Linked DNA regions of Homo sapiens: region 1 is linked to region 2. Evidence: fine-mapped expression QTL. Tissue or cell type: whole blood. Region 2 holds a variant in brackets; the other region holds the start of a gene. All regions are shown on one strand. Distances are from middle to middle.

The links. PIP is the estimated chance that this variant, and not a neighbour inherited with it, causes the effect.
Region 1: it holds the start of ACVRL1, and the variant in region 2 is fine-mapped to the expression of ACVRL1 in whole blood (TOPMed, PIP above 0.99).

The regions. Positions count from the first base shown.
Region 1 is chr12:51,903,699-51,911,798 of GRCh38, forward strand. ACVRL1 (activin A receptor like type 1) reads left to right here and starts at 3,806. Exons shown (of 10, transcript NM_000020.3): 1 at 3,806-3,997. RefSeq lists an enhancer at 3,967-4,475.
Region 2 is chr12:51,882,849-51,890,928 of GRCh38, forward strand. It overlaps ANKRD33 (ankyrin repeat domain 33), which reads left to right and starts at 5,255. Exons shown (of 5, transcript NM_182608.4): 1 at 5,255-5,483; 2 at 5,720-5,970; 3 at 6,219-6,348; 4 at 6,524-6,634; 5 at 7,736-8,080. The coding sequence starts at 5,339. The variant C/T (reference allele first, on the strand shown) is at 3,297.

The sequences.
Region 1 (8,100 bases), 21 kb after region 2:
GAGGCAGGAGAATCGCTTGAACCCAGGAGGCAGATATTGCAGTGAGCCGAGATCACGCCATTGTACTCCAGCCTGGGCAACAAGAGCAAAACTCTGTTTCAAAAAAAAAAAAAAAGAAAAAGAAAGAAGAGAAAATCAGTCAACATAATCTACCGTATTAACAGACTAACAAAGAGAAATTACACAATTCGTATCAGTGGATGCAGAAAAGGCATTTGACAAAATTCAATAGCCATCCATGATAAGAATACACACACACACACAAAAGAGGAATGGGGGAACTTTCTCAATCTGATATAGAGTGGCTACTACAAGAAACTTACGGCTAACATTATGATTAATAGATTGAGTGTGTTCTCCTAAGAGAAACAAGGCAAGGATGGCTGTTCTGTTTTGACCACTCTTATTCAACATAATGCTAGAAGTTTTAGCTAGTGCAGTCAGGTAAGAAAAGGAAATAAAAGATATGCATATTGGAAGGTAAGAAATAATACTGTCTCTATTTGCAGATGCAGATGACTGTCGATGTAGAAAATCCCAAAGAATCCATGAGGGGTAGAAAACCCAAATACCTCACCCCCTTGAATAAGTGAGTTCAGCAAGGTCACAGTATACAAGATCAATATGTAAAAATCGATTATATTTCTATATAATTTAATGAACAAATGGACACAAAAATTAAAAATAGCATATCCTGTTTATAATTGCTTTTAAAAAGTATAAGTGTAACAAAACACATAAAGGAGTTAAATGCTGAAAACTACAAGAACACTGATAAATAAAAGAGACCTAAATAAATGGAAAAAAAATATATCATTAAGAATTTTAAGATGGCAATGACAGCGCATTAAACCAAGCATGGGGCCCTGTGCATCTGCACAGGTCACACTCCCATGAAGCCAGCCCCGCACTAGTATCAAGAGTGATGTTTGAGTCTGGGTGGGGTGGCTTATGCCTGTAATCTCAGCACTTTGGGAGGCTGAGTGGGTGGATCAGCTGAGGTCAGGAGTTCGAGACCAGCCTGTACAACATGGTGAAACCCCGTCTCTACTAAAAATACAAACATTAGCCAGGCGTGGAGGCACGCATCTGTAATCCCAGCTACTTGGGAGACTGAGACAGGAGAATCACTTGAACCTGGGAGGCAGACCTGAGATCACGCAACTGCACTCCAGCCTGGGCGACACTGTGAGACTCCATCTCAAAAAAAAAAGAATGATGCTTGAACTTAATACTCATAGCTGGTCCTGAAAGGTGAAGGTGTCCATTGCCCTGCCTTCCTGACAGACTCCATGTCACCCACCTTCCACAGATGAGAATCTGCTTGAGGTTTCACCCCACACAGAATCTCCAGGCCTCTGCTTCCTGCAGTGTTGGGAAATCCTTCTGAGTATCTAAATCTAAATCTTTGTCCTTTGGGCCTGTTTCCTCTTGTTCTGTCCTCACTGAATATGGGGAACAGCTGGTCCCTCTGAGTAATTAATTCTTGTAGACTTGGACACAGTCTGTAATTCCTTTTCCCTTTTCTCATTGGGATGACTCTCCAGGGCTTTCTCCAACTCTGGATCTCCAACTCTGACACCTCCCCCAGGTTCTCTGTGTGCTTTGGAAGGCATGGGGTTCACAAGAGCCCCAAAGAGCACCAGTCAGGGGCCAGAGGGCTCAGTGCTCTGGGGAGATGGGGAAGATTCCAGCACTGATGAACAGACTCCAGCCCCCCCTGGGTCCTCTCTTCCAGCTCCCAAAATGTACTCTATTTTTATCTGTTTCACGAACGCTGGTCCAGATAGTCTTCCATCCCCCACTGACTGTTAGAAGTGACTCTCAGCTTTTGTCCATCTCGAAGTTTCTGTGCTCAGTGTGCCTCTCAGACTAAAGGCTTCCTTTGGGAAGCCCCGACTCTCGCTTCTCAGGACAGAGATCCAGGGGTTGGGGGAGGAAAAGGTTGACCAGAAGCCATAGCGGAGCAGGGAGAGAGAGTGTGAAAGACAGACCCGCGGCCAGGCTCCCAGTTCTCCAGCTCGTAGAGGGCCCAAGTGGCCGCTATAATCTGAAAGAGCAGATATCGTAATCCCATAGTACTTCCTATTGGCTGCAGGACACAGTTCTGTCCTGACACTGAAATTTGGGTGTGTCAGGGTTCTGGGAATTCACAACGCTCACAACTTGTGAAGCAGCTGTGGGGTGGGGGATGGGGAGGGTTTCAGCAGAGGAAGTGAGGTCAGTCAATAATTGATGCCTGTCTGAGCTTTTAGCCATTATCTCCCCCAGCCTCTATTCCTGTCAAAAGGTGGGGCGGGGCAGGAGGAGGGGTCCCTGGCTCATCTTGTAGAATCCCCATATTAGAGTAAGACACCTTAGAGGTCTACTCCTGCTTCTAATACCCACGTCTTTCCAAGTGTCTCTGAGGCCACCCCCTCCCCAGCCTTTTCATTTATTCATTTAATTAACGAACGCCTTCATTGAGGGCCTCCTCTGAGTCAGGCTCAGCCAGCCAGCATCTTTGCTATGAGCTGAGATAAGCATCATTTCCGTCTATTCTCACAACCACCCTATGAGGCTGGCACGGTTTACTATGCCTATTTAGCAGATGGGGGACTGAAGCATGGAGAGGTGTCACTAGCCTACGGTAACACAACCAGCCTGCATTCCTAGTAGGTAGTTTGACTTCAGAGTCTCTGTGGATAACCAGGAGGCTAGGACTAAGACCAGAGTCCTGCAGGTACTTAGATGGTTGGAGCAAAGCAGGGCAGTGAGGTCAGTGCTCCCAGCCTGTGCAGGAGCATCAGGAAGAGTCTGTGTCCCCCTCCCCTGCCGGTATGAAGCCATTCTGCTTCCCTCCCCAGCTGCCTTGTGTCAGCAGAGTTCCAGGGAGGCTCCATTCCCCACCTCTATCTAAAGCTCCATTTGCTGGGGTGGGGGCCCTGCCTGGAAGGGGAAGGTCCAAGGCTGCTCCCAGCGTGTCCCTCCATCCTGACTGTCCCTGGCGGGGCGGGGGTGTCTTTGTCACCCAGCTGCACAACGGCCAGGAAGGGCTCAAACCATCCTCAGGGCTAACCCAAGGCCGTCCTCTGGGCCTGTATACCCCTGTGCTGAGTGCGGATCGGGAGAGGCTGCTGAAGACAGGAGGGGACAAATGGGGGACGAAGGGGCCCGAGGGAGGGGACTGAAGGATTTGGGCCAAGTCGGGAGTTCCCGAGGGCGGAGTCAAAACGCATCTGGATTTTGCTAGCCCCAAACTCTGCCCTCATTGCTGCAAGCCTCCTAGACCGAGGACCCCCGGGCTGAGGGTGGGGTAAGGATAGGTAGTGTCCCTCCCCGTCCCACCCCCGCCTGTCCCTTCCTCGGTGGCCCCTTCCCGGCGCCCCGATTCCAGGCGGCCCCTCCGCTGCTGCCAGCCGATCCCCCTCTACCCCCACCCACTACTCCGGCCGCCAGACGTTGCCTACAGTCTCGGCTCTGTCTCCCACGGCTGTGGGTCCGGACCCCACGGGACCCCTATGGGACCCCCACAGGACCCCCACGGCCTGAGTCCAAGGCCCGCCCCCTCGGGGAGGCGGATGTGGGAGGCCCGGCCCGGGTGCGGGCCAGCGACCCGGGAGCTGCGGGCGGCTGGGAGGGGAGGCCGCCCTGAGGGGCTGGGAGCGGCGCGGGGGTGGGTCCCGGTCCTGCAGCCCCAGCGAGGGGCGAGCGGCGGCCAGTCGGCGAGCTGGGCAATAAGGAAACGGTTTATTAGGAGGGAGTGGTGGAGCTGGGCCAGGCAGGAAGACGCTGGAATAAGAAACATTTTTGCTCCAGCCCCCATCCCAGTCCCGGGAGGCTGCCGCGCCAGCTGCGCCGAGCGAGCCCCTCCCCGGCTCCAGCCCGGTCCGGGGCCGCGCCCGGACCCCAGCCCGCCGTCCAGCGCTGGCGGTGCAACTGCGGCCGCGCGGTGGAGGGGAGGTGGCCCCGGTCCGCCGAAGGCTAGCGCCCCGCCACCCGCAGAGCGGGCCCAGAGGTGAGTCGAGGTCCGCGGACGGGACCGGGTGGCGGGCGGCCTGACCCCCGCTTCAGTGGGCCCTTCCTTCGGGCGGACCCCAGAGTCACCGCAGAGTGGTCGCGGGAGGCTCAGTCCCAGCTCATTAGAAAGGCAAGCTGCTCCTGGCTGACCACGCACAGCTCCCATGACCCTACCTGAGACTTGGAGGGGAATGGACGAGACTGGACTGGAAATCAGAAACTTGGTTCTAGTCGGGTGACCTGGGGTCAGTGACTTCACTTCTCTGTTCTCCTACCCTCTTCATAAAATGGGCAGTGGGATTCCTGTCTTGCTCTACTCACATAGAAGGGATCACACGTCCTCCAGGCCGCTGGGTGGACCTGGAGTGAATGCCTACTTCCACAGCTGTTGAGCCTCCCAGCAGAGCTCACCTTTCCCAGATCAGTCCTTCCAGCTGTTGCTTGAGGAATCTGACACTATCACTCCAACCTAGGAGTCTCACCCTAGGCGCGCATGGTCAGTCACCTCCTTGCCACGACCTTCCTTCAGGATCCAGGCCAAAGGGGATCCCAGTCTCCCCCCAGGCTGGGACCCCAGATTTTTCCATGGAGGCCAGTGCTGTGAAACCCATGGCTGGGCTGGCTGCCCCAGCTCCTCTTTCCTTCTCCAAGGACAGGGGCATAATGGACAGTTGCTCTCACTCTCTCTATGTATGGCCAGCTTCTGGCTGAGTCAGGGTCTGTCCTAATACCTGTCCTCTCACCTGTCCCCCCATTTCATTGGTTTGTTAGAAATAGCTACCATTGATTGAGTACTAACTATGTAGACACTTAGATATATATATTTTTTCTCATGTAATCCTGGCCGCAACCTAGTGGAAGAGGGGTTACTATCCCCTTCCTACAGAAAAGGAAACAGACATGAATATGGGACTTGTCCAAAACTCCTTGGATGGTGGGGTGAATGGCATGGTTGGGGTCTTGATAACATTTCAGTGCTTACTGTGTACTACTTATACTCTGCTAAATAATTGTACTACATTTTACCTATGAGATAACACTATTATTATTCCCACTTTACATATGATGGGAAGCCTAAGCCTCAGAAAGTTTAAGTAACGTCTCAAATTTCATACCTCTAAGTGGCAAAGGCAGGATTTGAACCCAGGTCTCCATGCTCCAGAGCCCACACCCTAACCTCTGTGCTACACTGTGCTGCCTCCATGGTCTGCCTGAGACCTGAAAATCCAGGCATCACCTGGATGTTCCACTGCATCACCCCGCTGTGAAGGGCTAATAAATCACATGGATGAATCGTAAGGGCAACCCAATATGAACAGCTGGGTCTGCTCCTCTGCTGTTGGGGTAAGGCCTACTGAAGTGCAGAGTGAGTCCAGAAGGTTGTGCTTGATATGGCGCTTCTCCAGCCCTGTGAAGATCACTGCTGTGCTGAGCCACTGCCGTTGATGGGAGTAGGTTTTATCAATCCTTCAGGTGTGCTAGGGAGAAAAACATTGATAAGCACCTTTCGGGCATACCACTACTCTGGCTCTCCCCACCTGAGGCTCAGACTTTGACTAAGCCTATGGCAAACAGATGATTTCTGGGCAGCAACACCACCTTTGTTGCCTGGGTCAACATAGTGAGACCCTATCTCTACTAAAAATAAAACTGGGCATGGTGCTGCACCCCTGTAGTCCCTTGGGACTTGGGAGGCTGAGGTGGGAGGATCACTTGAGCCCAGGAGTTCAAGGCTACAGTGAGCTATGATTGCACCACTGCACTCCAGCCTGGGCGACTGAGCAAGACCCTGTCTCAAAAAAAATTAAAAACAAACAAAAACGCTGTCTTCATTTAAACAAATCTGAGTAGGGCACCCGTTAATAACAACAGTAGTGGGCAATTTGTACACGTCCACCGAGACCCATGTCTTTTTCTTCCTTTGAGGGACTCATCTAACCCCAAACAACTGGAGGAATAACAATGACCAAGGAATGATTTATTATCAGCAATTTAAGTTTATTAAGACACGCTCAGTGACTATGGACAAGAAACTGAACATCTCTGAGCCTCACTTTCCCCCGTTGGACTGTTGTGATGATTAAATCAGATAAACCATTCAAGTTCAGTACTTAGCACATAATTAGTACTCAGAGAAGGTTAACTGTTATTATTAAGTATTTCATAGTGTTTAGCTAACGTTTGAAATTAGTTTAACGTCTGTAATTTCTGGCCAACAATAGTGATGCTTCTGTCAGCAGGAGATCTTTCACAAAGTTTTGCTTAGAAGTGAAAGGATCCTGCCAGGCCCCAGGAGTCTGTCTGTGCTACAGTCAGATTTCAGGGTAAATCGTACAGAGTCAGCTCTGAGTTTGGACTGGTCGGGACTCAGCATCCTCCTGTACTTGATCTCACACTGGGTCCAGTTAAAAATTGGACAGTCCCAATTTTACTCCATCACATTCCCAGGATTAGACCATAGATGGGTTCTGCAGATGCAGACAGCCTCGCTCCACAGTGTCACCACGTCCCAGCTTTGGTGTTTACCCTTGGCTGTCCCTTCTGTAGTAGATGGGGAGTATCCTGGGTGGGAGTGAGTGTCCCCTCCCTCTGCATCCCACTCCCACTCACCCAGCAGGGCCCTGTACAGCAAAATGAAAGCAGAGGAACCAGACTTAGCGTTGTGCCCACACAAACTGATCAGAACTCCCTGGGGAACTTTTAAAAAATGCATGTTTCTTGCTGATTCCAGGACTGAATCAGAGTCTGGAGTGAGGGTGAAACCAGTGAATATGCTTTTCTCAGTGAGCACTTCAGGTGATTCTGATGCGTGATAAAGTAGAAGGAGGGTGGACTGGGGCACGGCCAGAGAAGTAGAGGTACGGACAGAGGATCCTAGAGGAATGCCGGATTTTAGCCTTATTGTTAGCCACTTTTTCCTTTCCACCTCAAACCCTCTCCTTTGCAGCTTTCTGGGCTAGCAAAGGCTGCCAAGGATGGCTTCCTGCTAGTACCCCAGTGGGCAGATTCAGCTCCTCTAGGGTGCTCTCTCCATCCCATCCCACCGTCAGTCCTGCCGCACAGTGCTAGCCAGAGTCCTCACTGGCTGCGGGAGGGGCAAGAGGCAGGAGGTCAGGCAGAGGCTGGGGACACAGCTGCAGCAGCCCAGGGCTCTGTTTCCTCCCCCAGCCTGGGCCTCTGGGGCAGAGGAAGCCCAGGCAGGAAGGCCAGGCCTGCCACCAGCCAGAGAGGCCTATGAAGCCCCCCTACCCCACCCCTAGCCATACTGCCCTCAGAGCCTCAGCATCTTGGGTCTTCATTTGGCACCATTCTTAGACTATGGGCTTTCTGAAGCCTCTGTGGCCATGTGCCCAGCCCTGTCAGGCTCACCATGTCATGCCAAAGGACAGTCTCCCTGCCTTGTGCCCTGCCTGAGGATCCAGTCCCCAGACACACACCTGCACATGCTCCACCATTCAGAAAGTCCTGTTGCTGTCTGACCAGGGTCCTTCTTGCTGCAGCTTTAGCCAATATCTTCTGGTTCTAAACCTGTGAGAAATGAAGACTGGGTGGCTTCAGAAGCACTAGTTGGTGTGGGACCTGGATTGGGGACTATCATAGACCAGAATTACTCCCCCTAACACTCTCCAACAAACTTCTGGAAAAGTTCAACCCTAGTCAGCCATGGAAGGTCAAACATTCAGTGTCTAAGTGTGTTTCACTTCCCCTGCCACATCACTGGCCCTCCACCCACCCTTTCCTAGATGGCAAGGGGAAAGAAGGGGGCCAGGGAACAGCTCCGAGAGGGCAGCTTATACTCTGGTGAGCTTGCAGAGAGGTTTCTCTACACCTGGCATGACCCTGCCCCGTCCGAGCTTTGCATGGTTGTTATAGCCCTGAGGGCTCAGACATGGGCTGCCACCACTGGATAGGGACAGAGCGAAGAGAGCACTTGATTAGGAGTCTGGAAACCTGGGATGTACGCCTGCTGGTGCCAGTGAGTCCTGTCTGACCCGGGACAAGTCTTCTTCCCTGTATGAGCCTTACTCCTCTCTTCTGTAAAACAAGGAGCTGGATTTTGTGATTCACAGGATGTCCACCTAGAATTCTGTCATGTGGGTG
Region 2 (8,080 bases):
GAATTCTGGGGGAAACAAACACTCAGATCATAGCGTATCCCATGTTCAGGGAGGAGAGAAGATCTAACATTATGAGGCAGTCAATTTTCCCCAAATTACTCTATAAATTCAAATAAATGCCTATCAAAACTGTAGCAAAAATTTTAAAAGAACCCAACAATCTTATATGCAATTTTACATGAGAGAATAAAAATCAACTTCAAAAAAGAAAATCAGATATGGAGAACTTACTCTATCAGGTAGTCAGAGAGACTACAAGGCTAGAGTAATAAAATCAGTGTAGCATTGGCACAGGAATGCCCTCATAAGATGCTATAAGATAACTGAAACATAGCATAAAACATAAAAGAGAACTCAACGTTTACATGTGATAAAAACGACACCACAAATCAAGGGAGAGAGAATTGTTTAATAGATGGAGTTATCTTGCTAAATGGAGAAAAAAATAAGGTTGGATCCTTTATTAGTCTGTTCAGGTTGCTTTAACAAAATACACAGGCTGGATGGGTTACACAACAGAAATGTATTTTCTCACAGTTCTGGAAGCTAGAAATCCAAAATCAAGGTGTCAGCAGGATTGGTCTCCAGAGAGGCCTCTCTCCTTGGCTTGTAGATGGTACCTTCTGACTGTGTCCTCACGTGTCCTTTTCTTGTGCAGGCACAGAGAGAGAGAGTTCTGGTGTCTCTTCCTCTTCTTATAAGGACAACAGTTCTATTGGATTAGGGCCCTATCCTGCCCTAATAACTTCATTTAACCTTAATTACCTCCTTAAAGGCCCTGTCTCCAAACACAGTCATTTTTGGTGTCAGGGCTTCAATATATGAATTGGGGTTGGTTGAGGGAGACACAATTTAGTCTATAACAGATTATTTCTTCAATATTATAAAAGTGAATTCCAGATGAATTAAAGACTAAATATTAAAAATAAAACTGCAAGATTAATAAAAGAAATGAAGATCTTTGTGATCTTGGAGTAGAAAATTCTTAGTAAACAAGACCCTGAACACAAAGTATAAGGAGAAATTCTGGTGAATTTAACCATATCAAAATTCAGGAGCTATTTCAATGAAGGTCACCATAGATAAAGCTAACAGAAGGGTTTATATAGTACAGTTGCCTCATCTATAACCCATCTGACAATGGCTTTATTATCTAGAATATTAAAAGAATTCCTGAAAAATCAATAAGAAAAGGATAGGAAAATTCAATAGAATACTGAGCAAAGGCCATGAACAGTCAATTCACAGGAGGGAAAACAAGATTGGCCAGCAGGGCATGTGGAGAGATGCTCACCTTGTTGATAATCAGAAAAATTCAATGTAAAATAGCAATATCGCTTTATAGTTCTATCAGATTGACAAACATTAGAAGGCTGAATAATGACATGTGTTGTCTAAGACGTAGGGAGACTCTTATGCACTGCTGGTAGGCACACATGGTGAAACAGAGTGCAACCTGAGTATCCACTCAGTAAGTGTGTATGTGCCCTGTGATCTAGTGATCTCAGAGACCCCGATGGGTCCACAACTAGATACGTATGAGGGTGTTCACTTTGGCATTATTTATAGTGACAGGAAGTTGGAGGCAACCTAAGCATCTATTGCAGGAAGAAGGGATAGGCTAAATGAGGTGGATGCACACTATGGAATTCTATAAGCAGGAAGAAAGAGGGAAGAAAGAGGGAAGAAAGAAAGAAAAAAAGTGGTGCACTCTACATCTTTCATCAAGACAGTGTTAATTATAGTGAACCCCAAGTTTCTCTTCAAAGAATCAGTATGTCAGTATGTTCAGCTCTCTTATTCTTTGATTATCCATTTTAAAGTTTAGCTTCCTGGTTCTCTTCCGTTCCCTTGCTCCTGGTTTTAGTAAACAACTTTCCCTCTAGTCCTAATCAGTAGTTCACATCTGTTCTCTGGTCAGCTGCTCCATCCTGACTCATCCCGTTTATCTGCTTTGACCTGAGTCATCCCAGTCACCTGCTTTGACCTGAGTCACCCTGGTCACCTGCTCTGATCTAAGTCACCTTTAGTTCCCTGTTCCTAACTGTCCTTCCCGCCAAACTACCCACCCCGCCACTCTAACTCATATCCCTGCTCTCTTTAAAATAGCCAATCGGAATTAGCTTAGGCTGTGCGGTCCAACCCTAGCCAATAGGGGAACGCCACAGCAGTAGGGCCGTGTGTCAGGAATAAGAACTCCTTCTCCTCTCCTGTCCAGGTGTGCTCTTGCCATTGTTCCATTCACGACTCGCACCCTTCTATAGAAGTAAAAATTGCCATGCTGAGAAAATTAAATTTATGTTCGAGTGCTATTTCCTTGCAGCATTGAAAATTTATTTACAACAACAGCATGAACTTTTTTCCTAGAATCCCTATCCATCAGACTTCTGTTTGCATTTCATTGGCCAAAACTGCATTACATGATAACACCTAACTGAAAGGTAACTAGAGAGAAGGGGAGTTATGAACAGGGATTGTGTTAGATAATCAGAGATGTCTGGTTTATCATCTGATAGATTTTTTTCTAACTGCTGTATAGAATTCCATAGGGTGCATCTATCCCATTTTGCTGTGATGGCTAGAGGTTTAGCAGCCATCTTGTGCCAAGGAGGAAAAGTCAAGAGAATCCCAGAGAAGGCCCTGACAAGTTTCTTAACCAACATCAACAGTTTCCTATTCCTGAACTTTTTATCATGTATTAAAAACAAGCACCTCTTTGTTTAAGCTACATGTGTCAGAGTTCAATTGCAGACAACAGAAATAAATCTGGACCTGGTGCAGTGGCTCACGCCTATAATCCCGGCACTTTAGGGGGCCGAGGTGGGCTGATCAACTGAGGTCAGGAGTTCAAGACCTGCCTGACCAACATGGAGAAACCCCGTCTCTACTAAAAATACAAAATTAGCCGGGGTGGTGGCACATACTTGTAATCCCAGCTACTGGGGAGGCTGAGGCAGGAGAATCACTTGAACCCGTGAAGCGGAGGTTGTGGTGAGCCGAGATCGCGCCATTGCACTCCAGCCTGGGCAACAAGAGTGAAACTCTGTCTCAAAAAAAAAAAAAAAAGAAAGAAAGAAAGAAAGAAAGAAAGAAATCTGATCAGTTTAAACAGAAAGGGATGGAGAAGCAGGCTTAGGTCCAGGAACAACCCCCAGCTTTGAGAGTCACATGACCTCTGCCTGTGATTGAGAAAACAACAGTCACTACTACAGGAAGCTGATGAATCAGGAAGCTGCTCACCAGAGCCTTGCTGCTGCTGCCATGACCTGTGACAGCAAAACGGATGTCCCATGCTA[C/T]GTAGCTCTGTTCCAAATTTATATCTTGCACAAGAGCAGGACGCAAACCACAGAGTCATAGCTCAAGGGAATCTGGGAAGGGTTGTTTTAGCTTTCCAACTTCTGCAGCGCAGAAGAAACACTGAAAGCAGTTTTAGATTAATGTTGAGGAGCCCGTCTATTATGGACAACATACCATTCAGCTTTTTGGTTACTAAAAACCAAATGCACATCCAACTGATACACTGCACCTAAAGCAATAAGGATGGAGCTTAAGTGAAAAAGAAAAAACTAACAGAATAAGTTCTATAGCACAATTCATAACATGTTAGTTAAAAACACATACAAGCAGAGCATGGAGGCTCATGCCTGCAATCCCAGCACTGTGGGATGCCAAGACAGGAGGATCACTTGATGCCAGGAGTTTGAGACCAGCCTGGGCAACAAAGTGAGATCCCCATCTCTACATAAAAAAGTTAGACAGGCGCGGTGGCACACACCTGTGTGCCTCCGAGAAGCTCGTAGCTTCTCGGGAGGCTGAGGTGGGAGAATCACTTAAGCCCAGGAGTTTGAGGCTGCAGTAAGCTATGATCATGCCACTCCACTCCAGCCCAGGTGACAGAGTAAGACCCTGTTTCTAAAAAGAAAAAAATAAAATAAAAACACACAAATCAGTACTATCTTTTTCAATGAAATGTACATTTTCAAGGATATACAAGTGCCAGTTGGTAAAGGGTGGAGGAGAATGGGATGTGGGGATTAAGGGTGAAAGAGAGAAACTAAAGAAAGTAAAACAAAACAAGAGAGAGGTCTTGTACAGTCTGATGATGGGAGTGATACCAATGGGGGAATATCATTGGCTCCATTTTCTACATCTGTGGACCAAGACCAATCCATCAAGCTTAATATGTAATATAAATATTAAAGAATATTTTGATAACAATTTATCATTATATTAACAGATCATTTAATTTAAATATTTCATATTTAATTTATCACACTGAAACTAATCTATTAAATTTCATACATCATAATTTCTGGCCAATCCCTCCCTCACTACTGCCTGCCGCACTTTGTGCCCCGACTGCCCACCTGCACTAGACACATAATGTCGGTACTCACAATTTCGTTTGTTTGTTTGTTTTGTTTTTTGAGAAGGAGTTTCGCTCTTGTTGCCTAGGCTGGAGAGCAATGGTGCGATCCCGGCTTACTGCAACCTCTGCCTCCCGGGTTCAAGTGATTCTCCTGCCTCAGCCTCCTGAGTAGCTGGGATTACAGGCGCCCACCACCAAGCCCAGCTAATTTTTGTATTTTTAGTAGAGACAGGGTTTTGCCATGTTAGCCAGGCTGTTCTTGAACTCCTGACCTCAGATAATCCACCCGTCTTGGAATCTCAAAGTGCTGGGATTACAGGCGTGAGCCACCCCGCCTGGCCACAATTTTTTTTTAAAAGGAGGTCTCCCTCTGTTGCCCAGGCTAGAGTTCAGTGGCGCGACATCGGTTCATTGCAGCCTCGACCTCCCGGGCTCAAGCGATCCTCCCACCTCAGCCTCCTGAGTCGCTGGGATAACAGACGTGAGCCACCGGGCCCAGCTCTATACTCATAATTTGACAATTATGTTTTTATTTCCCCAGAACCTCAAAAAATAAGTTCAGGTGACCCCCCTGGAGACCCCACCCCAGGGTCATTCTGAGAGTACCAACCCTATTTAATGAGATACCTGCATTCACTCACCCCCTCTCCCGCAACCACCCCTTCAGCAAGTCGCGCTCCACCCAATTAGGAGGGGCTTTAGGCTGGGCCTAAAAAGTTGGGCCAAGACCCCACGAGGCAGCATCTCCGCCGGCGTCCCCAAGGCTGAGAGTGGGCGCGTCCGTCAGGAGGAGTCGTCTTTGTGAGCCCGCCCCGGCGGGGAGGAGCTGCCCGGCTCAGGCCCCGCCCACCCGGAGGATCTTGGGGCTGGTCTGAGTCCGCTCCTGAGACGTGACCACCCGCCCCGCATGGGGCCCCAGTCCCAGCTGCTTGATCCGGCTCAGCCCCGAGGTGTTTGCAGCAGCTCTTTATGAAAGTCCAGCCATCTGTTACCTGCGTTGCTTCCTGGGGAGGGATAGTCCACCTGGAGGCATTCGGAGACCCAGTGATTGTGCTCCGCGGAGCCTGGGCTGTGCCCCGCGTTGACTGCCTCATAGATACCCTACGAACCCCAAGTAAGAAAAAACGACGACCCTCTCTCCGTGAGTCTCACTGGGGTGCTGACCTAGAGTGAACCCTGCTTGCTTAGGGCTCCTGACCCAGCGCTTGTCCTTTCTCAGGGTGGATGGGGCGAGACCCCTGCTGGGATAAATGTTTTCCCTGGGGCAAGGGCTGTGCACTTCGCAGCTGCTGGGTCCCCTCCCTAGGATCCAGGGAGACACTCACTACTCCTCTCCATTCTGTGTTTTAGATGCCAGCTGCATGAGAAAAGGGACTCACCTTCTGGTTCCCTGCCTGGAAGAGGAAGAGCTGGCATTGCACAGGAGACGGCTGGACATGTCTGAGGCACTGCCCTGCCCGGGCAAGGAGACCCCCACCCCAGGCTGCAGGCTGGGGGCCCTGTATTGGGCCTGTGTCCACAATGATCCCACCCAGCTCCAAGCCATACTGGATGGTGGGGTCTCCCCAGAGGAGGCCACCCAGGTGGACAGCAATGGGAGGGTGAGATGTCCTGGCTTCCCAGAACAGCTGGGGGCATCTTTGCATCCCCACCACACCGTCCTGGCCTGGCTCCCTGAGAGGGGTTCAGGGGCAATACCTCCTGCAGTCCTAAGGAGGAAGGGAATGGTTAAGGGCGGGTCTTCACGGGGTTTGGGGCAGGCTCTGGGACAGATATGGGTTTAGAGGGTGCAAGGGGCCCTGGAGTGGCCCAGGGGGAAAGCAGGGGATCTGAGCTGCCCCTCCCTCAGACAGGCCTCATGGTCGCATGCTACCACGGCTTCCAGAGTGTTGTGGCCCTGCTCAGCCACTGTCCTTTCCTTGATGTGAACCAGCAGGACAAAGGAGGGGACACGGCCCTCATGTTGGCTGCCCAAGCAGGTGTGAGGCTGCTGCACCCCACTTCCGACAGCCCCCTTTTGATGCAGACAGGGCCTCAGCCCCACCCTTGTTGCACGGTGTTCTACACCAGACTCTGTCATGCTGGGTGGAGGGCGGTTTGGGAGCTTCATCACCCCCTTTCCTGGGGACCAAGCTTACCCTTGCTGCCCTGCAGGCCACGTGCCTCTAGTGAGTCTCCTGCTCAACTACTATGTGGGCCTGGACCTGGAACGCCGGGACCAGCGGGGGCTCACGGCGTTAATGAAGGCTGCCATGCGGAACCGCTGTGAGTGCGTGGCCACCCTCCTCATGGCAGGTGTGCGGGGCCTGGACCGGGGTGTGTGGCCTCCAGTCCCTCCTCCAAGCCTTCCCACCAGACACTAAGTCAGCTGTGATTATTTGCAGAAAGGAGAGAGGTGGAGATGGGGGATCAATCTAGTTCACCTTCCTGGAGGGGGGGGCACATGATTTGGGCTTCGTACAATCAACCAAGTCCTGCTATTGATAGCTCAGACATTGTGTGTGGAGGTCCCAGGAAGGAAAGTGTGGGAGGGGAACCTAGCCCAGCTGGAAAATCTAACACGAAAAAAGGCTGGCATCTGGAACCAGCCCCTGTTCCTAGCTGAGTGGCTTCCCTCTTTGGGCCTCACCAGTATTGTGAGGGTGTTAGCTTTCCCTGGGACTACCTCCAACTCTGACAAGCCAGGCTTCCAGGGGATCCAGGGAAGTGTCGTTGAGGCCTGTGGCTCTGTGGGGTCGTTCAGGGGGAGGTGCGGTGAAGTCCACATTGTCCATGGAGTTGTTTGGGGGCCCTTCTTCCCCGCAGTGGGGCTGCCCTCTGCTGGTCACTCTGGGGGACCCCTGCCTCCATTTTTCCCTTCCCCACACACCCCACTGGGTTTGGAGTGAAAAAGGAGTGAATGAAAAAGGAGGGCGCTCTACACCCTTTCTTTTGTCTTAGAGTGACTGCTCCTCCCACAACCCCAAGATGGGAGAGGGAGATGGTGAGAAGAGAAGAACCAGGAGAGGGAACCAGCCGATCATCCCCACCCACCTGCCCCAGAGGGTGCAGCTCAGGCCTCTGCCTGTCCTGGGCAGCCTGCACCGCTGCTCTGCTCAGCTCCTTGGATTGAGGAGATCCCTATTCTGCCCTAGGTGGAGCCCCACAATAGGTCTCTCTGAAGTCTTTTCCCCTCTCTGGACCTAAGTGTCTTAATCTCTCTTAAACAGGAGGTTGCAACACTGGCCTCCCTGATTCCACCTTCAACAGGATGGGACTCTATGGCTTCGAATGTAACCCACATCAGTCTTGCTCCTAAAGAATCTGCCCTTCCACAAATCACCAACCCCTATCCCGCCCCATGTCACCCCCTGTGCTCCTTCCCAGGTGCTGACCTGACAGCAGTGGACCCTGTTCGGGGCAAGACGGCCCTGGAATGGGCAGTGCTGACCGACAGCTTCGACACCGTGTGGAGGATTCGGCAGCTGCTGAGGCGGCCCCAAGTGGAGCAGCTTAGCCAGCACTACAAGCCCGAGTGGCCGGCCTTGTCCGGGCTCGTGGCCCAGGCCCAGGCCCAGGCCCAGGTTGCCCCTTCACTCCTAGAACGGCTGCAGGCTACCTTGAGCCTCCCCTTTGCCCCGTCTCCTCAGGAGGGGGGTGTTCTGGACCACCTTGTGACTGCCACAACCAGCCTGGCCAGTCCCTTCGTCACCACTGCCTGCCACACTCTGT